Linked DNA regions of Homo sapiens. The protein of the gene in region 2 interacts with the protein of the main gene of each other region in a pairwise test. Each region holds a gene or a part of one and is shown on either strand. Other genes may lie near its edges.

Region 1 (15,581 bases), on a different chromosome or scaffold from region 2:
CTCTACTAAAAATTAAAAATTAGCCGGGCGTAATGGCGCACATCTGTAATCCCAGCTACTTGGGAGGCCAAGGCAGGAGAATTGCTTGAACCCAGAAGGTGGAGGTTTCAGTAAGCCGAGATCGTGCCACTGCACTCCAGCCTGGGTGACAGAACGAAACTCCGTCTCAAAAAAGAAAAAAAAAGTCTTATTTACAATAATTTCCTGTTTCCATTTCTTTATGCAAATCTCAAATAATAAACCTGCTCTTGGCAAGCTGCAGCTAATCTCCAGTTTATATTACTGTACATAGTTGTATATTTAAATTTTCTTAATATTGTGAACATTTAACATCTCAACCCTTCTGAAATGACTGATGGTGAAAGCTTCACAGAAAAGCTGGCCACGTCATGCTGTCGCCACTCAGTCCCACAACACCACACTCTCCTCCCTCCTCCTCCTGTTTCTGGCTAGACATTGCTTTCTGGACGTTTCTAAGGAAGCACAGGCCCAGCTTCTAATTCGACCAAAGGGTTTTAAAGTCTAAGTTCTAGCATTTTCTGAATGCTTCACAGTAGATGTTCCAGAAGAAATTAATGACTACAATAAGCATTCCAAATGATATTCTAAAATGAGGACTTTCTGGCTGGACACAGTGGCTCACGCCTGTAATCCCAGCACTTTGGGAGGCCGAGGCAGACAGATCACTTGAGGTCAGGAGTTGGAGACCAGCCTGGCCAACATGGTGAAACCCCGTCTCCACTAAAAATACAAAAATTAGCCGGGCATAGTGGTGCATGCCTGTAATCCCAGCTACTCAGGAGGCTGAGGCAGGAGAATCACTCGAACCCAGGAGGCAGAGGTTGCAGTGAGCCGAGATCATGCCACTGCACTGTAGCCTGGGCAATAGAGCAAGACTCCGTCTCAAAAATAAAAAATAAAATGAGTACTTTCTGTGCTCAAAACTACCAACTAAGCTAAACTATTTCATCAAAAGACCCCACTAATCAGGAAAACTGATACCAGAGATACCAAAATTGATCAGTGGAAAACAGTGGTTTATAACTCTACGTTTTGTGGAAGTGCACATTTTGATAATTCTTATTAAAAGACACTAAGATACATGAAGCATTGTGTAAGTTTGGCAGACATTAATATACTCATTTCAGAGGCAGTAAACCTATGAACCCTTAATGTTCTAGTTTGCTCTTGAAAATGATACTATTTCAAAGCTCAGTAATGTGGATAGATTTTTATTCAGAAATCCTTTCATATTCACTAACTGCAATTAAAAGTTTAAAATTACATGGCTCTTAGGAATGACGCCAAACATGCAACATTTTAAGAGTAATATTAAACAGTAATTTTGCCCTCAGAAGTTTACTTATCAAATTATTACAACAGGAACACAAATAGACCACATATTACTCTTTAATTAGATTTGTTTTACAATATGTTCTTGTCAACGAGCTATGTCAAACTGTTTGTTTAAACCTGACAGAAAAGCATTTTCACAAAAACGTACCATGGAGAGGGAGGGGGAGGGGAAGAAGCACTTTTTCTAGAGATGGAAAATAGTTCCAGTAAAAAGTTCTTATTCCTTTCTTCTAAGGAGCTCGTTCTGAATATTTTCACTTAGTTCTACTGTTCTTTAAACAGGACTTTAAAAAGAATTTTGTATTTACAAAATTTACATTTTGTTCCTACAAAATGTAATTTTTTAATTTTGTAAAATAAAAATGTAAAATTTTAATTTTGTTCCTACATGAGAAGTGTGCGTACTTTCAATTAGTTTTCATTAATATCTTCTGAGTTTTCCTCTTAGGTGGTTGGTTTCTGGGTAAGGCAGAGTTAGGCTGGTGCACACACTATTTAGGAAGTCCTGTCTCGTGGCTGACAACATACATGTAGTGCTCAAGGAAGTGAGTTAAGGAGTGACATGGGAATCAAAATGATGCCTAGAATAGTGTAATTTGGGAAACAGCCCTAGATTTGACATTTTGGAAGTTCACTGTAAGAAGAGACCCCAAAAAGAAGGAAAAGGGAAAGGGTTCCTCAGCTAAATATCCCACTCATCCATGCCTACTCAGCGGTCACTGTGACAAGGCCATCTTAATCGGGGCCAGAGATGACACTCTCCCCCTGTAACTCAGCCTGGCTCTGTCTATTGGGATGTGCCTAAATGGGATGGGTGAGGGGGCACTAAACAGCTAACACTGGCCAGGGAATTATTAAGGAGCTAAAATGCAAGTACCTCTTGAATACCACAGCAATCTCTGTGCACAAATTTGGACTGTACTTTTTGGGAGAAGAGGTGAAAACTATTATTAACTATTCCCTTCCTTCAACCAAAAGGAAAAATACGCCTCTTTAAGGCTTCTTTTAATGATACTATAATGCTGAATTTATTTATGAAAAAGAAACAATACAGGTTGAGGTGGGAAAAGCCCCAAGGAAACGGAGTAAGTCACTGGCGGTCACAGGACTTGAATTCCCTGGGGACAGTGCTGTGGGGTCCCCTGCTCGCCATCCCAGCACCTCAGTCTGAGTATAGATAATACTGCATTTTTGTAAAGACGAAGGCATCCTGCATTTACCATCACACTCCACCTACTCTTGTCCTAGTCATCTTACATACTCTTAGTCCTTAATCTCTCCCAAAACGCTTCTCAGCGCCCATTGTTATTGTGTCATCTACAAAGCAACACATATATTAAAACTCAGATTTGTTTTTAACAAAAAAGTGCTTAAAACCACCCTAGGCAATTGTTTTTCACTTCATTTTCAACCAATAAAATCAAATTCATTTAGATCTATGAATAATACTGAAAAAATAATGCTTATTCTCTTACATTTTAAATAATGTGCCTTCATCCTCAACTTTACATTAACTGACTCATTTCAGTATCTAAATGAATTGAGCTCTCATTTGAAAAACAGAAGGTACAACTATATAGAATTTTTAGGATAAAAAATGTTCTGGATAGAAAAATCCTTTTGATGTTTCAAAATAACACAGATTCTCAGTATAGTTTTCAGTTTGGCAACTAAACCATTATTAAGTACCCAAGGTTTTTAAAAAATAACAAAAGATAATAACATGATTTTTAAATACAAAGTTATATAGGAGCAACTCATATCTGTGGATCATCCTTACACAAAGTTGTTTCTCACTAGAAAAATCCCTAAATATTTGTCATAAAATAAAAACTCCATTATCAAAAATTAGTTTAAGATAGAAATCTATGCACTTTAATGATTGCCAGAATTGCCCAGCATAGCTTCAGTAAAATAGAGAATTGTCTAGAAAATACAATCTCCAAAATGTGTGCAAGTACTGCAAACCGGACAGACCGGGGCAGGGCAAGGCCCTTGAAACCAAGTCCTCCTTGAGCACCTTTCCCAGGTTAGAAACCCCTCTTCAGCCTGTGCTTCGCACGTTTCCTTCAGCGTGCCGCCATTCAGACTGCGCCACTTACGTCCCAGTGCCACGCTGCGTGGATCAAGTGTCAACGGGAAAGTATGAGTTAGGCAAGCGCTTTTTTTTTAAGCTGTAAACGCTTCACATGACTGGCCCCGTAAGAAATTGTGGGAGCTTAGATGAGCCTGGAGCTTTTCAGGAACTGGATGAGGACTCTGTACACAAATGTGTACTGGCAGAGAGTCTGCACCAGCATCATTCTCTGTTGCCTCAGCATGTCCAGCACTCTCGGGATGTCCAGCACCTAGGTTGAGAGAAACGGTAATGAAGATAATGTGTTCCCCTGGGGAGACAGAAAGGATGGGAGGACACGAGTGTCCTGGCAGAAACCTGGTTGGGAGATGGACAGTCTCTTTTCCACCTTAGCGTCTTCTAGAAATAAGCCATGATTGCCTACTTCTGATTTTCTGATTAGTTTTAGCTATAAATAGAATGTCCATGCAGACTATTTCTTCAACATTCCCCAGGTGTAGCTCACTGACTTTGTATGGTTGGACATAATTACCATGTCTCACTAAATACCAAAATTATACAAAAACATAGTGTGCTAAGTGCTATCAGTATCTAGCTATTTCCCTCAAGGGCTCTGGGCAGCATGAATCATCCTTGAAATGTAAACAGAAAAAGAATTCTGAGCTCAAATTTGAAAAACCCTGGGCAAGTAAAACAAAATTAAACAGCTTTATTTATCGTATGACTTCTTAGTCTTTAATATGCTAATTGGTACTGAGACTCTCCAAGAAGACACAGCCTTTTGCAGGGAACATTAGTAACATCTTGAGGCCACCACAGTCCAAGGAAATGTGCGCAAAAAGAGCTATTAAGTCACTATGTCCCTCTCTTCCCCAGCCTCATTTCCACCCAAAAAGGCCAGGTGATCATAAGCGCCATCACCTCATTGTGTTCCAGGCAGGCGATCATGATCTCCGACAAAATCACCACGCCAGTCCTTCCTACCCCAGCACTGCAGTGGACCAACAACGGAGGGTTGGGGCTTTGGGGATCACTTGTGCTATTTGTATGGCGTCGAACAGACTGGATCTCTTCAAGATATGCTGTGGAAAATCAATGAAATAGAAAAGTACTCAAGGATCAAGGCGTATCACATTGTTGACTCAATCTTCATATTCTCTCCACTGATTAAGAGGACTGCAGATAAAGAGCACTGGGTGCCAGTGAACCAAACCCAACCACAAAGGGACAGTGTGACCCTGAGCAAGTCACTACCTCTGTCCACTTTCTGATCTACAAAATGAAATGACGGAGATACTGAGTCAGCTGTGGCATTCTACTCACTACCAAATCATAATTTATAAACCTCGTTAACCCTCCCCAAAACACTTGTATTCTTTATGTTAAAACAAGTCCGAAGCTTATATGAGATAACATAAAGGAAATATTTCGGAAACATAAATGTTCCTCTCTGTTTAACACCTCCAGAGGCAGCTGTCCTCGGAACAAAGTTAAAGTCACTCACATAAAAATCCCTTGAGGTCTTCTGGACAGCCATGTTCAGGCCAGTCTGTGTATTGGAGGTGCCAGACGGTCCTCTCTTGCCCAGTAAGGAGGTGCTTCATCTTCAGGCCTGTGGTGGCATAGCAGCCAGAGTCTGTGCGGAACCGGGTCGTGATCTTAAACCTTCCATAGGTGACAGTGTTGTGCCTGGAACCAAGTCGTGGCCAGTACCTAAAGCTCTTCTCCCTTCCACCCTCCTGTTAAAGATGAGCATGGTTAAATGACTCGAGATCCGGCAATGGATGCCTTTCTCACATAGACGGCACATCTGAAACAGAACCACAACCCTACCCTGCCTTTTTCTCCACAGGTCAGGATTCCAGATGATTAACATTAACTGTTCTTCAGAGGCTGAGAAAATCACTTAAGAGAAATAAGTACCTACCTCTTCTGCTGTCACCATTGCTATAATTGCAATTCCCTGTTCCCATACCATCTGCCAAAAATCTTGACAGGTATTCTGTAATGGTCCCTGTGTGGCAATATAATCCCATTCGATTCCACTGACAGAGACCTGGGATTAGAAAAGGTTAAAAAAATTGATGTGTGGGTATAATATACATAGGTATGTATGCATGCATTCATGGTAGTACTAAAAAAGTTTTTTTAAAAAAGTAAAAAGTAAAAAAGTAGTAAACTGGATTATTCAGCAGAATAAGGAAAGACTTTTCATCTTTTCCCTTGTGAATACAATTTGCATTACTGACATTTTTATAAACTTAGGTACTGTGAATATACATAATATCTATGCAACCTGTTTAACCTTGCTGAATGTCAGTTCTCATTTATACAATAAAGATACTGCCTACCGTCATAGGGTCATTGTGAGGACTGAGTCAGTATCTATGGTACCTGGCACATAACTCAATAAGTAGCTGTTATTGCAGACATGGTGCCTCTTCTTTAAAAAAAACCTTCCTACTTAAGATAGTCTCACCTCTGAACTTCTGAGTCAAGGTCACTCTCCACAATAATATTAAGTTTCCACTTCAGATTTAACTTCCTTGAGAGCAGTCTAATACAACAGTAATTACTAGATTTGTGGTTAAGAGACCTGGGTTAAATCTTGGCTTCACCAATATTGAGTGACGACAATAACTGTCTCCAAACACTCACTAAACGTAAAACCCAGTGCCAAGCCTTGTGCCACACGCACTCTCACTCAGGGCTGCCAGCCCCCTAGTCACCGCTCCACATCGTCTCACTGAGCACCCAGTGGCTGCCACTGTGGATGAGTACCAGGTTATAACAGTGAATAAACACTAGGGAGGAGGAGGGGACTAGTGAGAAGCTGGCAGGGTAGGTGTCATCATTTATTTATTTCCATGTAAGTGAGATGAGGTCCCACAACACAGCTTATAAAGTGAGGTCCCACCTCATTTTAGATCTAGGCGTCAGACCCAGGTCTATCAAATTCTTTCCTCTATTCTGCAAGTGGCTGCTGAAGATTTTGAAATATCACTACAGAACTACAGTATCATTCATTCTTATCCATCTAGTCATGAGAGACTGGATGAGTTATTTCAAGGAAATGCTCGGTTTTTAAGTAAATTATGCTGATATTATATTTAAAAACAAAATAGTATGTGCATAGATTCCCAAAAGCCATCAAGGGGTACTGGCATTCACAGGCAGACTGCCAGTCTCCAGAAAGCCTTGGTGTCAGCTTGTTCCCTTCTCAAATAATACTTGCAAACTAAAGAAAAAAACCACCACCTGTCCACAGTTACTCATTCACTCACCATGAGATTTCTCCTTCCCAAAATAAAGAATTGAATGTGGCCAGCATGAACAAAGGGTACAATGAGGAAGAGGGAACATCTGGCTTTATTCCATCATGTGTTGTGAATCATCATTTTGTCCATTTTCATAGGAGTGATATTACCCCAGATAAGGTGCCAAGAACATACACTAGGGAAGGACAGCCTCTTAAATACATGGGACTGGGAAGACTGGATATCCATAAGCAGAAAAGTAAAACTGGACCCCCTATCTCTCACCATAAACATTACCCCAGTTTAATGGCATTATACTGGTTCCAGGAAAAAAGCACTTCTTCAAAGAAAAAAAATGATACTTAAAAATTATTATAAAGAGTATGTAAAGAGAACAGATGGCACCTTGGTAAGTTGAAAGCTTTTGTGAACACCATCAAAAAGCCCAGACACTTTTGTTACATAAAAATGCATGTCAGTATGTGATGAGGAAAAACTAGCAATTCAGTGGCTCCCAGAATTTATGAGCTAAAAAGAGGTCTTCAGATTTAGAAGGACAAAGTTCTAAAGCCAGGCAACACAAGGTCAAGGCTGTAGGGAGCCATGATCATACCACTGCACTCCACCTGTCTGGGCGACAGAGCAAGACTCTATCTCAAAAAAGGCAAAAGAAAAAAAAAAAAGCCGGGCAAATAAGTGCGCCCTGAGTCCTGGTAACAGTGTTGGGGGCAGAGTGGTTTCGCACATGGAGAGTAGACATGACTTTGGCTCTGTCTGATAGACGCTTTTTATCTAGCACTGGTATGTGGATTTCCCAGCTTGCAGTACAGTTTGTCACAAATGTTTAAAACTAGGGTGTTTATCTAAAACAATACAATAAAAATAAATTTTAAAATATCTGAATTCTAAACAGACATGAATACAATTCTTACCATTCTTGTAACTTAACTGAAACTGCATGTGCTGTTGATTACTTGAGGCGTTCCTCTCACCTTAATATGTGATGCGTTGATGTAACCAGTGTTGTTTTCTTTAGTTGGGACCAACTCCACTCTCACATCATCATAAGGAAGAACATCTTGGAATCGATTTCTTTCTGCATTTTCAGGGAGTCGTGCTGTTGAGCACTCCCCATCAACTAGCCGTTTCTTAAGAATTCTTTCATATTCTGTGAATACCATTCCTTGTTCTAATCGTTGTTCCAGAATTTTACACTATAAAACAGAATATGTGTAATAACATGAATACAGCCACACGTCGTGGCTACCTTTTGACTGTATATTTGAAATCTTGTTTTCTGCTTCAAATCTAGCACTGTATAATATTGAAAATTCTAGGTTGGGCACGGTGTCTCATGCCTGTAATCCCTGCACTTTGGGAGGCCAAGGAGGGAGGATCACTTGAGCCTAGGAGTTCAGGACCAGCCTGAGAAACACAGTGAGACCCCGTCTCTGCAAAAAATTAAAAAACGAGCCAGGTGTGGTGGTGCATGCCTGTGGTCCCATCTACTTGGGAGGATGAGGCAGGAGGATTGCTTGAGCCCAGGAGGTTGAGGCTGCAGTGAACCATGAGAACCTATCTCAAAAAAACCAAACCAAAACCAAAACAGAAACAAAATTCTAGGTGAAAATGAAGTTAAAATTTTAAAAAGCCACAACAACAAGAGTTAAAAGAACAAAAGACAATCATTTTGGTGAGAAATATAATGCAAACTTTTGTTTAAAGTTGAAAATTGGCCTAAAGAAATTTGTTGAATTCATTTTCTCTAGATCTGTGGTCAATTTTGTGACCCCTAATAGATGGAATTCTCCTGGGGAACAGTAAGTAAATCTAGGGGACGGATAATGAGTTCCAACAGCTATGAACAAATGTTTCCATTTTATGTCATACGATATATAAAAGACTAAAGCAGTAGGAAATATTCGAAACTACCTCCAGGATCCCGTTGTAAAGCAAATGTATGCCTATCTGATTTTGATGTAATAAAACCTCATAGAAAATACACCTCAGGCACAAAGGAAGTTTTGAAAAATTGAGAAACTACTCTCGAGATAAACTTTCAGTATAATAAAAGTCAATGTCTGCTGCTTTTCCCCTGTATGCTCCTGTATTTTTGTAGATTTCTTCTCACTTTAAGGCCATCAAAATCAAGACTGCTCCAAAAGGCCAGGAGAAGGTAAAAAAGAACACTGAGAAACAAACAAACAAAAAATCAGCATTCGAACCTGAAATTATCTATTAAGACATTAGCTATACATTTGCCCCAATTTTGAGGCCCATATTACAAAATTCCTTAACACTCATTTATTATTAAATTGTGTTAGAAAATTCACCAAAATCTCATGAAGGCATTTGCGTAGTATTTACCGGTTGTTCCAGAGAAGGCACAAAGCCCTGTGTGTCCCATACATACCCTTTCATCATTCGTTGCTCTGGTAGCCACTTCCTTTCCTTCATCAGGCAGAGGCACTCGAGATAGGGAGAGTCCATTTAGGGCAGCCAGTTTAAGAGGACCAATTTTTTTTGCATCTACTCGAGTCTTTTTCATTCCCTGTAAAAGGATTTATATGTATATATGAAATATACACAAATACAACCCCTGTGAAAAGAAGTTTCAATGCACTGAAGACCAGGAACACACAGAGGGAGTGTTCTCCTTTGCCAATAAACCCAGAAAGATTACACTCCTTCACACACCACTTGTTTAACAAACATTAGTAGGAAGACATTCCTTTCAAGGCCAAAGCCCTGATAAAGTCTTCCAGATAGAAGGTTTTGAAACACTATTGGTTACAAAGTTCTGTTGTAATGAAAGGTGAGGCTCCAGGCAGACTGCATTCCTTTTAAAACAAGACAGACGTAACAAATCAGCTGAAGTCCAAAAAAAAAAAAAAAAAAAAAAAACAAAAGCTTTAAATGCAATCAATTGACTATAGTAAGCTTTTATAAATTTTTTTTTTGAGGGTCTCACTCTGTCACCCAGGCTGGATGGAATGCAGGGGCACCATCATAGCTCACTGCAGCCTCAACCTCCAGTCTCAAGCAATCCCACCTGAACCTCCCGAGTACCTGGGACTACCAGCACATGCCACCATGCCCAACTAATCTTTGTGTGTTTTGTAGAGATGGGGTCTCACTATGTTGCCCAGGCTGGTCTCAAACAACTGAACTTAAGCAGTGTTGGCCTCCCAAAGTGCTTGAGATTACAGGCGTGTGCCACCATGCCCGGACAGCTTTTTATAATTTTTAAAATATATAAATTCTTTAAGTCATTCTGAAAAATTAAATGGTTTCTGCAGCAGCCCCCTTTGTGTGTTAAGCCCCCTCCTCATATGCTACTCTGCATTCTAGTGCAGACTTAGATGACCCGGGTTAGATCACGCTACCTCTCAGAACGGCTACGTTTTTAAACAAGGAAAATAAAACAGGGCTAAAATCTCCATCATGACACCAGGAGGATAGGACAGAAGAGAAAGCATCAACAAAATCTTGTCTCCTGAAATCAAGTGTTTCCTAAAATTATTATTAGAGCATGATTTTCCTCTCTGAGAATAGTAAGCATAAGAACACTAAGTTGACCAGGTGCGGGGGATCACGCCTGTAATCCTAGCACTTTGGGAGGCCGAGGTCAGGAGATTGAGACCATCCTGGCCAATATGGTGAAACCCCGTCTCTACTAAAAATACAAAAATTAGCTGGGCGTGGTGGCACATGCCTGTAATCCCAGCTACTCGGGAGGCTGAGGCAGGAGAAAGGCTTGAACCTGGGAGGTGGAGATTACAGTGAGCTGAGATCGTGCCACTGCACTCCAGCCTGGAGGCAGAGTGAGACTCCGTCTCCAAAAAAAAAAAGAACACTAAGTTTCGTTGGATATACTACACTTCCTTGGATGATATCAATATAATGAGTAGCCCCAACTGGAAAATAATGGTTCTGCCCTGTAAACAAAATCCGTGTTATTCCAGCTCTCTCAGCCTGTAACAGGCCATGAAGCCCCATGATAATGGTGCAAGAACAGAGGGAAAAGGCAACTTGGTGAGAGAGGAAAAAAATCCTAAAAGATTGCTGCTGTAATTGGAGACTGTGATTGGTACCTAACTCAATAAGCTAAGTGGATTAATTTTTAATTTTATAATTAATATTTGATCATGAGCTCCCCACATAATGCAGTCTAGACTATAAACAGCAGAGGCCTGGGTTCACATCTGGCCTCTAACTGACCAACTTCTTTCAGGCAAGTCACCTTTCCTCTGTAAGCCTCACCTAGACAGAAAGAGACAGATATATCCAGACACAGGCATACAGACTAAACACTTCCTGCTTAGGCTGAAATTTAATGATTCTAACGTGCAGAAAACAGTGATGTGCTGGTAATATTTAACAACAGGCTCTTGGAAGGAAGTTTTGATCGGTGTTTGCCCATATCCATGGTGTAAATACTCCCATCACAGCCAATTTCAAACTGTTAATGTCACATCAATTGGCTCACAAGGTTCCTGAACATTTAAGTCGGCTCTTGCTAGTCAATATGAACTAGCTCTGGCACTTCTCTGCCTGAAAATGACTCAAAATATCCCACACTGGGACACGCTGGATAAAGCTGATTGGCTGTGAGGTCAGTTCAAAAGCCAGTATTGGAAGAATGTTGTATGTAGTCAAAACTAGCCTTGAATATGCCTTAATTAGCCCTTAGAATATAAGCACAGGATTTTAATGCATACCCTGCACAGTGATTTCTTATGTGAGAACCACTGCACTAAAGGGTACAACAAAAAGAAAATCTTTATGTAGATATATGAGCACCCAAACCAGTCTGCCTTTAAGATAACAATCAGGTTGCTGGAGGTGGAGATGGGTGGAGAATTCTAAAATCATTCCTACTTGTCTACAGTTTATTTCACTGTTTTTAATACTAAACCTCCATAACCTTAATTCACATTAGGAAATTTGTTGTAACGATTAAGATAATGGCAACCCCATGTTACTATGAAAGGTCAGAGGGTACAATAGGGAATTGGCCTCTTCCACTCTTGAAAGCCATTAAGTTAAATATATGATGCCACCTCACAGTAATGTTAATATTGACTAATCTCTTTCAATGTGCCAGAACCTCATTTTTATCCCCCCAACAACTCTCTGGGGTCCTCTCATTTACAAATGTAAAAACTGAGTCACAGATTAAATAGCTTGTCTGAGGTCACATGGCTGCCTCTTTTACAAGGTAATCAGTGTCAAAACAAATAAAAGCAAATCTTTGGTTAAAATCAGTTACACTGAATCATGTAATTCAGGAGGCATTTTTTCATGCCTAACTGCATGTGGGACATAATGCCACGAAGCAGGCAGCGAAGGGATGACCGTCCTCATGATCTGAGGTTATCTGATGTGGAAGCTGAGGTTCTGACGCATGAAGGGTCCTGACCGTGGTCACAGAGAACTAACAAATGGCAGGCTCTAGACTCAGCCCCAACGTTCTTAACTTGTAGGACCTTTGCTCTTTCCTCGTGACCACAGCTGCCATACCCATTCCTTAAGTAGAATCCTTTAAGCAAAAAGGACCAAAAACATAATCCAATCACATAATTTTACTAGTATTGTGGTCTTAAAAGTCAATGGGAGAGAAAAGTTCTTTTAAGAGAACCAAATTGATCAAAGTCCTCAGATTTAACTGAACCTACCAGACCCCATTCAAAACATACAGGGATAAAATAGGCCTGAGTACTGAGCTGTACTCAGATAGCATTTGGGGAAAGTACGTGAGTCACACATAAAAACAGACCGTTCTTAATGCAATGGGAAGGGTGTTAACTATAAAAGGACCCTGTCCAGCTGGCTCAGGGATTCAGGTAGAGTTACTTTGGAAAATCTACCCACACCTTATCCTGAATCACTGCTCCCTACACTCTTAAATCTGTGTCCACTGAAGGCATTGGCCTTTACTGTTCAGGGATGTGAGTTATGTTGCATACTTGTGAAAAATTTAAAAATCAACTTAAAATTCAAACCCAAAACTTATTAAAAGAAAGCAAATTTAGGCCAGGTGTGGTGGCTCACACCTGTAATCCCAGCACTTTGGGAGGCTGAGGCAGCCAGATCACAAGGCAGGGGAATCGCTTGAACCCAGGAGGCAGAGGTTGCAGTGAACTGAGATCACACCACTGCACTCCAGCCTGGGCAACAGGGCAAGACTGTTCTAAAAAAAAAAAAAAAAAAAAAAAAGCAAATTTAAATCTGTGGTACTTTTTTTGTTAAGTAGTTTTTGTCTATGTACATTAATCTCTTTCATAAGTACTATAATAGTGTGCGTTTTTTCCTGTTTAGCAAGATGTTTGCAGCATCTTAAAGGATGTCATACACTAGGCCAGAACCACACTTGAGATGAGCCGTCCTGTCGGAGTTTGCAGTTTAGCAGCGATGGGGGGAGGAGAACCCTAGTTGCCAGGACACTGGAAGCCAACAGGAGATAGGATGGAGGCCCTAATCAAGTTAGCCTGGCTCAAGTGCAGGGCATGAGGAGTGGAGATGTGGGCCAGGAAGAGCTGGAAGCCTGAGCACTGCAACAAAATCACTTCGGTGGACACACTTCATGACAAGGCCGCAGATGCTTAGTCCCAGGTTAAGGACTGAGTTTAAAAGTTTCAGTGAAAGACTAGCAAGGCTTCAACAAGCAATTATGACTTAATAGAACATATACAGTATACTTCAATGCAGAACATACATCTACAGTGTAGATGATAACAGAATGGGCTTCTAAGTATGGGTTTAAAATTCCAGTTCAGTCACTCACTAGTCATGTGACCTTGGAAAAGTTAGTTAATATCTAAGTCTGTTTCTTCATCTGTAAAACAGGCATAACAATAGGCTTACTGTAAATAGGCCACAAAAGTAGAGGAAATGCTTGGCCCATGGCAAATGCTCCAAGGATGGTAGCTAGAGATGATGCTACTATGCTTTTTTATATTTTGCTTCAAAGTAGGTAAAAAGTGCTTAATTCATATTTATTTATTAGGCTGAATATTAAAGAACTGCATCTTCTACCGGGGACTTTCCTTAGATTCTCAGCTGAATTCATCTTTCTTTTAAATTTAAGAAACCTGGACGTCTCAGGATTTGCCTTAACAAAGTGCCACCTTCCCAACTCCAGAATCACTCTGGAGAATCACGGCCAAGATATGTAAGCTGTATCCACACACACTCCAACCTGGAGAATTATATTAGGATTGGGTACACTTTCCTGGATGCTTTTTTCAGATATCTCTTGAGCAAACTAAACAAATGCACCCCTGGGGTGCCACATCACCCACAGTATTTTTAATGGGTGGCTAAAGCAATCGTGGCTAAAGTAATGAAATCTTAACTGTCTTTCCCTTAACAGTGCATTACTAAAACATTTCATTCATCTTTTCCATTTCGACAAAACCCTGTGAATTTACCTTTTCACTTCATCTATAATAATTATCTCCAGTAAAACCACTAAAATTCAAGTGGATCCCCATGATTTCCATAAATTTAAATGTGTTCAGAATTAGACAAAAAGAGAGTGACGTGGGGGAATGAAGAACGTTAAAAGAACAAGAGGAGCTGAAAAACACGGGACGTGATGAGTGAAAGAAGCGCCAGGGCGAACGCGCGGTCCCCTGGCCCGGCACTGCTCGCCGCGTGGCTTACCCCTAGAGGCGGGAGCCCTTCCACGATGTTCTTCTTCCCAGAGAGAAGGTCCGACACCGGCCTTTTCTTCAGAGAGTCCCTCCGGGCTCGGTAGCGGCCTGACGTGGTGAGGTCGGACTCCGACATGGAGGGCATCAGCAGCCCGTCTCTCCAGGGCCGCTGGGCCTCTGCGGTCGTGCGGACGGGGCTGCTGTCCATCATCCTCTTCTCCGCGTCTGGGACGTGGGCCTTGGGCTCCAGGATGTGCAGGGGCCCGGCGAGCAGGACGCGAGGGCAGCCAGGTGGGTCCTGGGCCAGGCCGGGCCGAGGCTCGCGCGCACGTGCAGGAGGCGCCCGGGCCCCGCTCTCCTCCTCGAAGTCCTCGTCCTCCTCCTCCTCGCTGCTGTGGATTAGCATGGTGGCGTCCGACAGGGACTTCTTATGGCCGTACCTCAAGCCCTCCGCCTCCTCCGGCCCTTCTCGCTGTGTCCTCTCGGTGAAAACGCTGGGCTGGGAGCCCACCGAGACGGCTCGCGGCGCCACCTCTGCCGCCGACGCGGATAGGGTGCGCTCCTTGAGCCGCAGGCCCTCCAGGCCGTGGCTGAGCCCGGCCACCTCGATGCTGTTCCGTTTGTGCAGCTGCGCGTGGCGCGCGGCGGTGAGGGGCTCGCTGACCTCCTGCAGCGAGTGCGCCACGGGCAGGCTGTCCTCCTGGAACGTTTGCACCGAGTGGTGCACGCGCCGCGTGATGAGGTCGGGGTTGCTGCTGCTGATGTAAAGGTGGCGGGACAGGTCTGGCGTGCTGTTGGCGGGCCTGGGGGGCGGGTAGGGTGGGGGTGGCCGGTACACCTGCGTCCGCATGATGTTGGGAGACGGGTAGTCCTGCGCCTGCAGCTGCGCATTGGTCAGCTCCGGCACGCTGACCGCGCCCACCACGGGCCGCCGCTCGGCAGGGTAGGGGTAGGGAGACGGGCTGTGGAAGCTGTAGCTCAGGCTGAACGGGCAGTGTGCGGCCGCTGGCGAGGGGAGCTGTGCGTGCTCGCGGATCTCGGGCTGGCTGTAGACCAGCGCCGCGGGCCTGCTGTAGGCGTACGAGCTGCCGATGTTGAGGTTTCGCAGCGAGTGGCTCTGCCGTTCCGCATGCACCAGGCCCCTGTTGAGCTGCTTCATCACAGTCTCATAGTCTGGGGTGGGGCGGTAGGACGGGGGTATCACGGCGCTGTGCCGATGGGACGGGAGGTAGT
Region 2 (15,385 bases):
GGGCCTCACTCTGTCGCCCAGGCTGGAGTGCAGTGGTGCGATCTTGGCTCACTGCAACCTCCACTTCATGGGCTCAGACATTCCTTCCACCTCAGCCTCCTGAGTAGCTGAAATCAGAGGCGTGCGCCACCACGCTCAGCTAACTTTTGTATTTTTTGTAGTGATGGGGTTTTGCCATGTTGCTCAGCCTGGTGTCAAACTCCTGAGCTCAAGTGATCCACCCACCTCGAGTTCCCAAAGTGGTGAGATTACAGGTGTGAGCCACCGTGCCCGGCCTACTACATTTTTTAAAATTTGGAAAAGTGTAACAAAATAAAAGCCATCCATATTTCCACCACCCAGAGATTGCCTAACTTTTTAATTTTGTTCTGTTTTTTTAAATATACCTGCATGATGTTTTCATTTCACAAAACACATATTAACAATACAATATATGTAGTAGTGCATTTTGTTTTTTTCCACTTAAAATTGTGGTGAAGTTTGTTTCACGTCATTATATAATCTTCAAAATAATTAATTTTAATACCTATATAATAGTCTGTTATCTTGGGACCTTAAATACCTTTACCAAGCTCCCAAGTTCTAGTTATATAGGTTCTTTTTAATTTTTATTACTATGAAATATATTATAATACACAATTTTACCTGCATCTACTTCCTTACCAAAGACAAAAGAAAACATAAAATAAAAAACAAGAGGAATAGTGTGTCAAATAATTTAAACTTTTAAAAGTTTTGACAACTTTCTTTTTTTTAATGGTGACAGAGTATCACTCTGTCACCAAGCCTGGAGTGCAGTAACGCGATCTCGGCTTACTGCAAACTCCACCTCTCAGGTTCAAGTGATTCTCTTGCCTCAGCCTCCCAAGAAGTTGAGATTACAGGAGTGTGCCACCACACCCAGCTATTTTTTTGTATTTTAGTAGAGATGGGGTTTTCCCATGTTGGCCAGGGTGGTCTCAAACTCCTGGCCTCAAGTGATTCACCTGCCTTGGCCTCCCAAAGTGCTGGTGTTATAGGCATGAGCCACCGTGCCTGGCAGACATTTTGATAAGTATTTTTAAACTTCTCTGTAGGAAGCTTGTATTATGTAACCCTCCCACCACAAGTAATGAAAGAGATTGTCCTTCTCACTGCATCCTTGCCAGTATTAAGTTTATTTTTTGTATTTTTTACTTTTTTAATACATAAAACACACCACCTCATTGTTATTTTAATTTGCATTTCTGTGATTAATAGTAATAACATTTATTAAACGTGTGCATTGGTCTTTTATTTTTTCCTTTTGAATTATGCATTCAGATATTTGGACAATTCTATTGGGGTGCTATTGTTTACTCACTGATTTGCAAGAGTTCCTCAGGGCTATCATGAACTGTCATGTCATGTTTGGTGTCAATATTGTTTTCCATGATTCTGTTCTGTTTAAAATGCATGCATTGCTGCATATGAGAGTTTAAAATATATTCAAATCTTTATTTTGCTTTGTGATTCTTCCCATTGATTTTATATTTAAAAAGTACTTCCCCTAAAATTAGTTAAATATTTTATTCTAGCTTTGTTTTCCACCTTGCATATAAACTTATCAATTTATGTGGAATTTCATTTGGAGGGTCATGTAAACAGAGGTTCTTAGTTGAATGCTTTCTATACACTTAGCCAATTTCCATGACGTTTTGTCAAATACTCCTCACTGTTTCATAATGCCTTCTTCGTCATATTTCTGGTTCTAAGAATGACCTAAATCTGTTTCCAGGCTCTTCTATTCCACTGAGCTATTAATCAATTCTTACACCAGTACTACATTGCTATAATGATTGTAGCCAATGATCAAATTTACTTTTGTTTCAACAATGGCGCCCATTACCACTACCACTTCCATCTACCTACCTTCACCCCCCAACCACCCACATCTACCACCCACCACCCCCATCCATACCACCTCATCCCACCACCTTCATGTATTCGTCTCCACCATCAAACTTCCCCCCACCTTTACCACCCCTAGAACTCCACTCTCCACACCACCTGTATGTACCACCACCTCCCATCTTACCACCACCACTCACCTCCCCCACCACCACTACTATTCTTTTGAAAAGTTTTCTTTTATTTTTATATGGTGATTCTTCCAGATGGATGTTAGAATCATTTTGTAAGGTTCTCCCAAATCCCAATGTAATAAAACTATATAATTGATCTGGGAAAAATAACCGTTTCATAATATTCATCTTTCTACCAAAGCATAAGGTATGTCTTTCTTTGTTTGCTCCTCAGTTTATTGGTTTGAGTAAAATTGTATAGCTTTCCACAAAGACTTTTATATATTTCTTATTATTCACGAGTATTTTATGTATGTTTCCTGTTTTTCCCACTCAATTTATATATTAGTGAATTCATGAATAGAATCATTTTCCATTCTACTTTTTAGTTAGTAAAACACTGGCATTTTGGGTGGCCATCAATTTTTGAACATGTATTTTATAACCAAAAACATTACTGAAATTTTGTACTAGTTCCTTTAGGCTTTAATTGATCCCATTGTGTATCCATCACTTTTAAACAAAATCAAGGCACACTGTCTAATTTTTGGTTACTTACATTAAAAACTTTACTTAAACATAGGCATTAAATGCTATTTTACTGTTTATTTTTAAAAATCACCCTTTTATGAGACTAATATAAAAATCTGAAATTGAAGCCACTTTAGAAATCTAAAACATAACATGTGTTCCTCTGTTGAACTACATTCATTTCCCTTGGGCACTCAGTCTTACTATTCAAAACTACAAAAAGGGCTCTGAATGAGAGACATTAAGTCACTTCTCACTTGGATTAAACAGGACAAATTTAGACAATTAAACGAAATAAAACAATTCAGGATTTTGACAGAAACACACCAGGAACTTGTCGCCTTATAAAGAGCAATTTCTCTCCTAATTTACCTCCAGAGATAATGTCCAGGATGATTTTTAAAATAAAACAGTGCCCACCTAGATATGGTGAGAAAGCAATTGCATGCTCTTCTATATATGTGCAGATACCTTTTTCCCCAGATAAGCACACATTTCCTATTTCAACAGATCAGAATAATAATACCAACAAATTATTAATTCACAAAATATTTGTTGTGCTCCTAGTAAGTGTGGGGTTCTGTGTTATTGGGAAAGATTAGAGGGTTATAGTGATGATTATGGACAGGAATTGAAGAGACACTGGCATATAACAGAAGCTCAACAAATAATTAAATGTATTATTTATTTATTATTATACATAATGATTATTATTTATTGTTTACCATTAATTTCCAGAAGACTGAAAGTCTAGCTCACCATTGTCTTCCAAGGGTGTAGCATGGCAAATATACACATGCAATAAATATTTGCAGAATATTTATTGACTGATTGATGTATTTTTACAAAAACCTCAGTTGCCAAAAAAATATTTTGACTCAATTCTTAACTTCTAGCCTAAATCAGTTCTTAAAAGATGCATTTGTTAAAGCCAAGAATACTCTCCTTTTGAAGTCAGAATAAGGTTCTAAATTGCTCTTTCTATACTAGAAAAGAAAAACCTTCTAAAAATCAGATCTTGAAGTTGGCACAGGAAAATGCTATGAGGCAGAGTATTCGTTCCTTCACTCATTCACCAAAAGTTCATTGAGCACCTTCTGCATATAAGACATAAAATAAATGGCCATTATAGAGCTTACAGACATAGCCAAACAAACAGGCATTTGCAAACTGGAATAAGTGCTGTGGAATAAAAGTGAAAGGATGATGAGAGAGTTGGGTCGGTGGGGAAGAGAGATCAAGGAAGCCCAAGGGATGAGTATGACCCAGACTGGTAAAATATAGAGGGAAGATGGTTGGGGATGTTCCAGAAACAGACAGAGGGTCAGTGTGACAGCATCAAGAGGAAGAGATGCACAAGATGAGGCTGGCCAAGTATCAGAGGCTCTAGGAGTCTCTGGAATCTGTCCCAGGTGTGTGGGTGGTATTTTATGTAGGGAACTGACATTATCCTCTCTGCTCTGGATGAAGGATTAGAAGAGCCAGGCAAGGAACCAGGGGTCTTGTTAGGAAGTTATTCTAGTGGTCCAGGTAAGAGATTATCATCTCTTGCAGTTTGATAGTGGTGGTGGTGGGGATAGAAATAATTTATCAAGATGTATTTAGAGATCTATAGAGAAAATAGCATTTATAAGACTGCATGATGGTTTTAAATGTGGAGGGTCAAGGGAAAGGAGGTGTCAAAGGTGATTCTTGGGTTTCTGGTTAAAGCAACTCGATGGATAGTGGTGCCATTTACCAGGTTAAGAAGGACTAGAAAGTTGTTAGCTTGCCTTTGTTGCTATTATTGTTTTTGTTATTTAATGCATTTTGGTTTTTTTGCATTTGTTTGGAAGGTTAGCAAGAAGGATGGAAGGCAACATCAACAAATCAACTGGGGGCACAGTATGTTTGAGATACTCTAGAAGATCCAGGTCCTGGGTTGTCTTGGCTCCCAGGTAAGTGACATGCATAAATGAGGTACTTTTGAACCCTGCTCTTCCCTACCATGGTTGTGTATATAAAGCCTCAAATAGGTTAGTTCCCTTAAATAATCTTTAAAGTATTTTCTGAATCCATGCTACTCTATCTTTACCTCTTATGCTAACATAATGTTAATGTTGTCATCAAACACAGTTCATAGGGATGTTGGTGTACTGGGCTGAAGAGTGTCTCCCAAGAATTCATGCCCATCCAGAACCTGTGAATATGACGTTTAGAAATCAGGCATTTGCAAATGTAACCTGGTTAATTTGAGGTCATATTGAATAAGGAACAGGTCCTAAATCCAATATGAATGATGTCCGTATAAGAAAAGGGAAATTTGGACACAGGGACAGAGACAGAGAGGAAGATGCCATGTGAATACAGAGGCAGAGATTGGAGTTATGCTGCCACAAACCAGGGAATGCCTGGGGCTACCAGAAGCTGGAAAAGGCAAGCAAGGATCCTCCCTTAGAGGTTTTGGAGGGTGCATGGCCCTGACAACATCTTGATTTTGGACCTCTAGCCTCCAGAACCATGAGAGAATAAATTTCTGTGGTTTTAAGCCACCCAGTTTTTGGTAACTTGTTATAACTGCCCTAGGAAACTAATATAGTTGGGAAATTTAAGGGAATTAACATGTTTGAGCCTGAATCATTATATAGGGCACATAGCATAGGTTCAGTAAATATCCATTTCCCTCTTACTCATAACAGTCACCACCATTTTCCTGGTGGTTTAAATTATGATTAATCCGTACATCTACTCATCTAGATAAGTCTTACTATTCCGAGGACTGTTCTATAAGTGAGGAAACTGAGGCTTAGGAAAGTTAAATAATTTTCCCAGAATCACAAAGCTAAACATAGAAGAGTCAGAGTTCAAACACCTGCCTCCCATACCTACAGCATTTCAGCAGGTCCTGACAGAGTGGAGAGGCACTGCCAGACTAGATTTTCAATGCTTAGATATCAATTGATTCAATGCTTAGATATCAATTTTCAATTAAACTCACATTTATTAATAAAATAACAAGCTGCAGAGACCTAGTACAATCTCTACCCACTCACAGAAGAACACTAGGTTTTTAGTCTAAGGCCAGCGTTACCAAGGAACTTGCCATTGGCTTATATTGCTTCCATTTAGCAGTGCATCTGCCTTGCACATATGTATTCCAAGTCAAGGTATTATCAGATTGGACATTTATGGCTTTAATTTACTTAAATGCATTTTCCTTATGTATTCCCCCACTTCATTTTGATGATACTGACTCATTCTCGCCACCTAACAAGACTATAAAAATAAATAGTGTGAGTGCAGAGGAAACTGTCTCCAAACTTCATATGCTAAGATGCCCATCCTTTAAATTATAAAGCAAAAAATAAACCCATGCTTTAAATTTACCTTTCTCCCTAACTAACCTGGTTATCTTTCTCCCCAAGATTGAGTTGTTGTGCTGTTGAATATAACAGATACACAAATCTAAGGTGGCACAGCTGTTATTATAAGGTGTCAATTTCATAGAATTCTAGTGTAGGAGGGACTTCTAAAAAGCATCTTGTCCATCTATATCAGGTAAGAGAAAGAGTGTCTACAGCCTCCAAGCCCCAGAAGAGAAGCGGTTGCACTAGAAGATTTTTGTGAGTTACCTAAGACCCTGTGGCTATGTCTTGGTAGAACTCCGTAGAATGCCAGGTTTCCTGATTTTCCTAAAAGTGTGTTCAGTCTTTCAAGCTGTCATCAACTATTAACAATGACACTTTCCTCTGGCTTTGTGCCAACTTTTCTTTTTGTTTATTATTCTGGCCATAAAAAGACCACCATAAATAGCCTCAGCGTTTCAGGTTCCCTTAATTGATATCTAATGTTGACAAATTAACTCAGCCCGAGTTGAAAGCTCCATATACACACACATGGTTTCAAGAAGGGCGATCGCGCTTATCCTCCAAACTGAGCAGTGATGATCCCTGGACTTCTCAAGTTTACCCTCTAGGAGGCTGACATGGCACACAATTTTGACAAGAGTTTGGAACCAAGATCCTCTTCCACGCCCTGCTCACAAGGGTGCCCACAAGCAGAAGTTCTCTCTCTGTCTCTCCATTACAACCCACCAGGCGCGCGCGCACACACACACGCGCGCACACACACACACACACAAATAACAAAGGAAAACACAGCCTCATAAAGGCTCAGCTATTGCATCCTCCAGTCCACACCTGCCAAAAGACAAAAACCATGCGGGAATCCTGCTCTGGCAATATGTCCAACACTTCTCGGGAAAAGCAGCGCCGTGGCACCCCCAGGGCGTGCGCTGCTGTATACACACAAAGAACTGGTGCTGGGCTTGCGAGCAGTTCGGGGTACCAGCACGCTCTCAGGGCTGGAATCCGGGGTTCTCCTCCACGCCCTCCCGCCCAGCAAAATGGAACCATCCTTTATTTGGTTGGTAGAGAGCCCAGGCTGGATAGTAGCGCATGGGTTGAGGGTGGGCGGTCCCCTATCCCTACCCTCCAGGCAGCAGGTCCCTAGCCTTTGCATCTCCTAGGAGATGCAGGATCGCGCTGTCACAGTGGTCCTCTTCGCATCCTCTCCCGGCAAAGAGAGATGCTCCGGTTACCAGCGGCGCGCATCCCCGCAGGCGCCTCTCCTCTCGCCGATACCCACCCAGGCAGTCCCGACAGGCGCGCCTGCCTACCTGGTGGCCGGCTGTCAGCGAAGCGGCGGTGCCTCAGCCCCTTCTCAGCTGCTACAGCGCTCCCAGCGCCATGTTCCCGGTCTCCCCGGGCGCACGCTGGGGAACTACTACTGGCTGGGTAGGGGCAAGGGGGGCGGGGGCCAGCGGGAGGGGGTGAGAGGCAGAGCCACAGCTTTCTACTCTCCACCCAAACCTCCCCCAGCTACTGAGCATGCCCAGCTGCCCGGCTTCGCCCCTCGGAGGACTGTCCATGAGCGTACGCAGCTGCTCCGGGTTTTCGTGGCAGCCGGCGGGAGGCAGGCTGTAGCGGCGGCCGGGGGTGGAGGTGAGGGGGAGGGTCGGGGGGCGTGTCTACACTCAGGGTGCAGGAGCCAGGAGCCGGGAGCTGGAGCAGGCGACCAATCCAATCACGTTTACTCCCAGTCGTCCCCGGCGGGGGCAGCTCCTGCACGCCCTCTCCCCCAACACTCGGGATTTGCAGAAATGTTGTTCAGGACCATTGCAGGATTGAGTTTTGCTTAAGAGGCTAGCAGAGGTGGGGAGGAGGAGGGGCTGAGAAGCAGAACAGTGGGCTGGCCTCTTTGCCACCACCTGGACCGGTGATTCTCAAACTTTCATGTGCCTGTGAATTAAAATGCAGATTCAGATTCAATTGGCTGGGTCCTGAGATTCTGCAAGCCTAACAACCTCGCAGGTGATGCTGCTGCTGCTGGCCCTCCCACCACTCCGAGTAGCAAACATCTAGAGAACCCCTTATCTGTGACCTCTCAGTGGCCATCCTTCAATCCGCCAGCCTAGCAATGGTCTCTGGTGTCCACAGAGACTCCTCCAGCCTGGGGTTGCTGAGCCTTACCTGGAAGGAGTGTTTGTGGGGCTAGGCTGTGACCACCCAGCTTCTCCTTGGCTGCTGTCTGATTTCGAATTTAAGGCCCAGGGGAAGAAGGATTCCTGGACCTTTTCATGCTCACTTTGCTAGCTGGCTAGTAAGCCAGTTGCTGGATGAGCTGCCCCGGTCAAGTCTGAACCAGTCTGCCTTGGCTGTCCCCTTGCCTTTCCTGAGCTGGGACAAAAACTCAGACTGGGCATCAAAGTGTTTATTGTACATCTAATAGCAAGCTTGGGCTTGCCTAGTTAAGAAAGCCGACAGATTATGACAAACATAGAGCGCATTTTTGTACCAAGAGATGTCAGGCCTTTGTGTTCAGTGATGTTTGGGCTGAAGTTTGCAACGATATTTGTGGTTCAACTTAAACTTCCCAGTTGCCTACTGCCCTCCCAGACTCTTGAAGTCTCCAGCATTATCAAGACTCTAGTGAATGAAAGACATTCACGAAGTAGTCCTGAGTTTTCACCCTTGGAAATGAAGAAGCCACGCTCTTGTCTGTCTTCAGCTGCCACAAGAGTACCCTTATGAGCTAGTAGTGGATATGGAATCTGATCCCATAACTAGATAGCAGGTTACAAAATAAGGATTTGTATCTCTCCGTTCCTTATTATACTCAATGACCTTAGACAGTTTTCTAGCTAATAGTATAGTAGTTATCATTTCCCCTTGCTTGTTTTCCATTCACTTAGTACCTTTAATATTGTACTGGCCATATCAAAACAGAAACCACAGGATAAATGGATGATTACTTTTCTCCCTCAGTAGTCCCATGTCCTTGTGTATCATACTCATCTCTTCCTTCTCAAAGCTGCACACAGCCCTAACAACCTACCCACTGCCACCATCGTCACCCCCACAACTATATGCATAAATATTTTCTACTTTTGACTTTCTTATATGTGTGCTCACATAGATGCAAAAGCCAGAACATATTTTTACTGAGATATCGTTTATTTGTCATTGGTTAGTATCAGTTAAAATTTTTATTTGAAATATTGAACTTTAATCACTTAAAATAGCCTTCCTGTTATACATAAAGTTTGTGTTTGTACATTTGTTTCTGCTAGTTAAATATGATGATGATTGTTAGCTGCCTCAAATTTATTTTGGAAGCGTGCAAGGTAAAAATTATAGATGAATAATAATGCTATTTCTGTAAATACTGCATTGCATGAATTCCTAAGGGTTTTCTTTATATGTAATGCCATTTCTTGAGGGTTTAGCCTGCAGTATTTGACTAAGGACCAACATCTGTGGGTGGGAGGGATACAGGAAGCAGGAGCAGGCAGAGGTAGAAGCTAAGCTGTGATGCAAGCCAATTGCAGCCTTTGTCAGCCCCTTATGGAGCTCACTAGCTAGGGTGATCCTTCAGAATGACCATGAGTTGGTCTGAGATAGTCAGTCCTTTACATCCACATCAATCATTGAGCATGGGCTGTTCCTAGGAGGGGCACGAACTTAAGACAGGCAGCTCTGGCAATTCTTACAGGTAACAACAGCTAAAGGCCTCTGTCAGCTGTAGTCCCTGTGGCTGCAGTAACAAATCCTTCACTTAAGGGGAATTTAGGCAAAACATTCCTTTGTCCACCACATTGATGTATTTATTGAATACAGCACTTTTGAACACACAAAGTAGAACTCTACTGATTTGTCAGACAGATTTTAAAACTTTATTTTTGAATAAGTAATAGACTTTCTCTCTGGCTCAAAGATTTAAAAGTTGGAAAATAACCTGTAATCAGCCATTGAGAGTATACTATCTATTTAGGTATCTGGCTGTATGCATTTTTTATATGACTAGTTTAATTATGATTTATTGAGCAGGCATGTATTTATTGTCTACCATTTAAGACATAATTTTCTCTGTCAAAATCTGTATTTGTAATTTGTAATGGGGTAGGAATAAGTGTTTGATAGTAAATAGAAGTGTGTTTTTCAATAAAACAGAGCTACTGACTAGTCAAGATTTCATGAGAAACTAATGTCAACCAACCTTGTTGACACCAAAAACTGTGACAAGATGAACCTGAGGGGTGGAGAACTTGGTAGATTGGCTGACAGGGATGTGTAAGACAGCATGCTGGAACCCAGGTTCAGACTACCCAGCTCATTCTCTTTACCTTCTCCAGGCTATGCATCTACAAATGGCTGGAATTCTTGAAAGATGAACCGCAACCATAAGGGAACCAGCATAGATTCTAGAAATGAAGCAGGACATTTGCTCAGATAGTGGAGGTAGGGAAAGAATAGGAGGTGGAAAAGAATGTTCCAAGGAACATAAACAAAAGCATATAAAGAATAGGTCTCTAAAGAATTCCCCCAAGGAAACAGAAAAAAAAGTTCGGACAAATATTTTTTCCCGAGTTTCAATGGAATGAAAGGCAATATAATCTGAATAATGTTTTTTAAAAGCACCATAAAGAAATATAAGGATTTAAAGACAGACAATAAGACTAAAATGAAAGATAAACTAGCAGAGTTCAGGGAAAAATAAAAGCCATTAAACCACTCAAAAGGTAAGAGACTAAGGGCCAGGCGTGGTGGCTCACGCCTATAATCTCAGCACTTTGGGAGGCCAAGGTGGGCGGATCACTGAGGTCAGGAGTTCAAGACCAGCTTGGCCAACATGGTGAAACCCATTTCTACTACAAATACAAAAAAATTAGCCGGGCGTGGTGGTGGGCGCCTGTAATCCCAGCTACTCAGAAGGCTGAGGCAGAAGAATCACTTGAACCCGGGAGGCAAAGGTTGCAGCCGAGATTGCACCACTGCACTCCAGCCTGGGCGCAACAGAGGGAGACTCCGTCTTACAAAAAAAAAAAAAAAAAAAAGAAAGAAAGAAGGAAAGAAAGAAAGAGAGAATAGGAAAAAAAAACAGACTAACCACTGAAAACACAGTGATAAATAGACAAGTACTTAGCTACTAACAAATAAGTATAAAACAAATCATAGACCATTTTTATGAAATACAAACAAAGGAGATCCAACACATGTACAACCAGTAACATGCAGGAGCTGGCTTGCACCAGCTTGCAAGAGCTGATTGGGCATACGTACTGCTTCCTAACTCCATTTTCAGTAACAGCTTGAAATCAGCCACTGTGGAAGTATTTACCCCACACAAATGGACAAATGCTACAAATCAGGGTTTTGTTTGTTTGTTTGTTTTCAGACAACTGGTTATTACATATCTACCAGAATACCACTTTTTACAACCTTTGCTGTTAAAAAAAAAAAGAATAAAATGGAAGAGAAAAAAATAATCAAAGATGTAATAGAAACACAAAAGTTAGTTTCCTGAAATAGAGAGTGTTAGATCAGCAGAACAAAAGAACACAATTGTCTCAGGGGAAAAAAAAGAATCAACCTGGAACAATTAACCCTAAAATATATCCTACTGAAGTTACAGAACTTCAAAGACAAATAATGTTCTGAATATCCAGACAGAAAAGGCAATTTACATATAAGAAAAAGAAAGTCAGTGTGCATTTAGATTTCTTCACTCTCATCAAGCAATGCCTGAGGGTGTTCTGAGGGAAAGAAAGGGTGACCTAAGAATGTTTATTTTCCTACACTGGTGTTCTTCAGATTTTCAAGGCAACAGTCAATTGTTCTCAAATGCAATAAATCAGTATACACAGCAGAAAAAAACCTTTATAATATTCTACTTCATTATCAAATTTATACAACTAAGAGATAAATTTAAAACATAAATCTCATGAACGATGAAGCTGTGGTCAAATGTGATAATGATAATCATATTTATTTTAAAATAAATCTAAGACTAAACCACTGGTGTTTGGCAGTTTTAAATCAGAACATAAATATAAACCTTGACAATGTCAGTATCATTGGATAACTTACTAAAATCTGAAGGTAGAAAGAAGGGAGTTGTAAGGAGGTTTAAGTATAATGATTTCCTCAGCAAGTGGTCAATGTATATTATTAAAGTTGCCGCAGATAGATAGAAAACCCCACCTCTGATCTCATCATGCTTTTTTCTTACCTTTAAGGGAATATGTTTCAAACTTATCTCTCTATATGAAAAAAAACCGTTTTCTGAAGTTGAGAGATTACTGCAGGCACATTTTAGCTTCTTTTCTTATTTAATTTTAATAAGATTAAATACAATTTAGTTTTAAAGTAGCTTCTGTGCTATCATCCACATATGGATGATACTTGAAAAAGTATATCTGTCAACTTATCCTACTTGTTATAACCTTATATTTTTATCTCTTTCTATACAGGAAGATTTATGGAATATTATAAACCAAGGGATTTTTTTGATGAAAAGATTTTGGGTTGATTGTTTACTTCTCTGTATTCCTTAAAATTGCTTGAAATTTTAGACAATAAATGCATGTGTTTTAAAAAGAAGCCATTATTCTCTTCAAAATATCCCAAAATATTATTCTCTTTTAAACATATTAAAATTTTACAGAAAGCTGGGTGCAGGGATACACACCTATAGTCCCATCTACCCAGGAGACTGAGGTGGGAGGATCACTTAAACCCATGAGTTCAGTGCCAGCCTGAAAAACAAAGACCTTGTTCCTAAAAATAATTTTTTAATTAAAAAAAAGCCTTACAGAGTATGAAAATGGAATGAAAACAGATAACTAAAATAAGTCTGGATTAAAATTATTCGTTTAGACAAAAATGAAGAGAAGACACAAATCACCAGCATTGGGAATAAAATAGGTACTGAAACTGCAGATCTCGAAGTCATTAAAAGGATAATTTAAGTAAATATTTGGAAAAACTTTGTGTTCATAAATTCAACCACTTACAGTAAATAAACAATTTCTGAAAACCACACACTAACAAAAACTCAAGTAAGATGAAATACGTAAGCTGAATAGTCCTGGAACCACTGATGAAAATGGAATACATAACTTAAAAAGCTCCCCAAAATGAAATATCCAGAGACTTAAACTTGAAAAATAACCTGTAATCAGCAATTGAGAGTATGTTATCTATTTAGGTATCTGGCTATAAACTTTTTTTAATATGAAGTGTTTAATTATAATTTAGTGAGAGTGTTTTACTGGAGAAGTCTACTGGAAGAAGAATTAATGTCATTTTTTCACAATTTTCTTAAGAAAACAGAAGAGAACACTTCCCAAATCATTTGATGAAACAACTCTTACCCTGATAACAAAACCAAACAAATTCAGTAGGAAAGAAAACAAAACTATAAACAAATATTTTCTGCTTCCCAGCTTCAAGCGATTCTCTTGCTTCAGCCTCCCGAGTAGCTGGGATTACAGACATGTGCTACCACTTAGATGCAAAAATCCTGAAAAAAAAGATACCAAACTGAGTCTTACAATGTATAAAAGTAATTATACTTTGTCAAGTGGTGCTTCTCTCCAGAATGGAGGGCAGATTTAATATGGAAAAATAATGTAATTCACCATAATAAAAAATGAAAAAGAAAAAAGTAATATGATCACATCAATTGATGCAGAAAAAAATTTGACAAAACCCAACACATGTTTATGAATAAAAACTTTCAGCAAGTTAGGACTAGAGGGGAATTACCTCAACTTGATAAAAAGCAACTACAAAAAACCTCTGACTAACATCAAACTTACAGGTGAAAAGATTGAATGCTTTCCCCCTAAGAGGCAGAACAAGGCAAGCCTGACTATTCTTACCAATCTTACTCAATATAGTAATGGAAATTCTAGCTGAATTCTAGCTCACTGAAATGAGGCAAGAAAAATAACTGTCTCTATTTGCAGATGACATGATTGTCTAGGAATCAAATGCCAAAGAATCTAACAAATAACTCTTAGAAATAATAAATGAGTTCTGCAAATTTGCAGCATACAAGATCAACACACACGCAAAATTTTATTCTGTGTACTAATCATGAACATACAGAAAATAAAATTTAAAACACAATGCCGTTTACAATTGCTCCAAAGAAAATGAAATACTTAGGTTTAAACTTAACAAAATATATACAGTATCTGTATGCTGACAATGACGATTACAAAATACAAATGAAATAAGTCAAAGTAGACCTAAGTAAATGGAGAGGCATACTATATTCATAGATTAGAAGACTCAGCATAGCAAAGGTATCAATTTTCCCTAAATTGATCTATATAATCACTGAAATTTCTATAAAATAGTCAGTATATTTTTTATAGATATAGACAAGTTTATTCTAAAATTTATATGGAAAGGTATGGGTCTAGAATAGCTAAACAATTTGTTCAAGAAGAATAAGGTGGGAGGAATTGCCCTATCCAAACATTAAGATTTACTCTATAGCTGCAGTAATCATGACAGCATAGTATTAGCAGAGTGCTAGACACATAGATCAATGGAATTGAATAGAGAACCCAGAAATAGACCAATATAAATATGAACAACCAATTTTTGACAAAAGTGAAAAAACAATTTCTTGGAGTAAGATAGATTTTCAGCAAATGGTGCTACAACAATTGAACATATATAGGCAAAAACACACACACACAAGAAAAAAACAAACAAAAAACATAACTTCCTCACAGCTAAAATCAATGGTGAAAGACTGAAAGCTTTTCCTCTAAGATCAGGACAAAGACAAAAATGCCCACGTTTACCACTGCTATTCTATATAGTATTGGAAGTGCTAGCCAGAGAAATCAGACAAAAATAAAAATAAAAATAAAAAAGAAGAAACATCCAAATTTGAAAATAAGAATCAAAATTACCTTTGTTTGCAGATGACATGATCTCTGTAGAAAACCCTAACAAGTCCATACACACACACACACATACACACCTGTTAGAACTAATATTAAATTCAACCCGATTGCAGGATACAATATAAACACACAAAAATCAGTTGCATTTCTATATAGTAGCACTGAACAATCTCAAAAGGAAATTAGGAAAACAATTTTATTTACAATGGCATTAAAAAGAATACAATGCTTAGAAATTAACTTCACCAAAGAGGTGAAAGACTTGTACACTGAAAATAACAAAACACTTTTTTTTTTCTTTTTTTTTTTTGAGACCAGAGTCTCCCTCTATTGCCTAGGCTGGAGTGCAGTGGCACCGTCTCTACTCACTGCAACTTCCGCCTCCCAAGTTCAAGCAATTCTCTTGCTTCAGCCTCCCAAGTAGCTGGGATTACAGGCGTGTGCTACCACACCCTGCTAATCTGTGTGTGTGTGTGTGTGTGTGTGTGTGTGTGTGTGTGTGTGTTTTAGTAGAGACGGGGTTTCACCATGTTGGCCAGACTGGTATGGAACTCCTGTCCTCAGG

What was found.
Region 1: the proteins of PAK5 (region 2) and PTPN21 interact in binary tests that used the Homo sapiens proteins (3 or more experiments, as listed by UniProt).

Annotation. Positions count from the first base shown.
Region 1 is NC_000014.9:88,464,562-88,480,142, forward strand, and holds the end of PTPN21 (tyrosine-protein phosphatase non-receptor type 21), read right to left. Parts: coding exon 14,359-15,581; intron 9,242-14,358; coding exon 9,104-9,241; intron 7,905-9,103; coding exon 7,683-7,904; intron 5,790-7,682; exon of another isoform or gene 5,490-5,789; coding exon 5,361-5,489; exon of another isoform or gene 5,307-5,360; coding exon of another isoform or gene 5,286-5,306; intron 5,173-5,285; coding exon 4,938-5,172; intron 4,516-4,937; coding exon 4,355-4,515; intron 3,705-4,354; coding exon 3,576-3,704; 3' UTR 1,217-3,575; downstream 1-1,216.
Region 2 is NC_000020.11:9,831,532-9,846,916, forward strand, and holds the start of PAK5 (serine/threonine-protein kinase PAK 5), read right to left. Parts: upstream 7,546-15,385; 5' UTR 7,231-7,545; intron 1-7,230.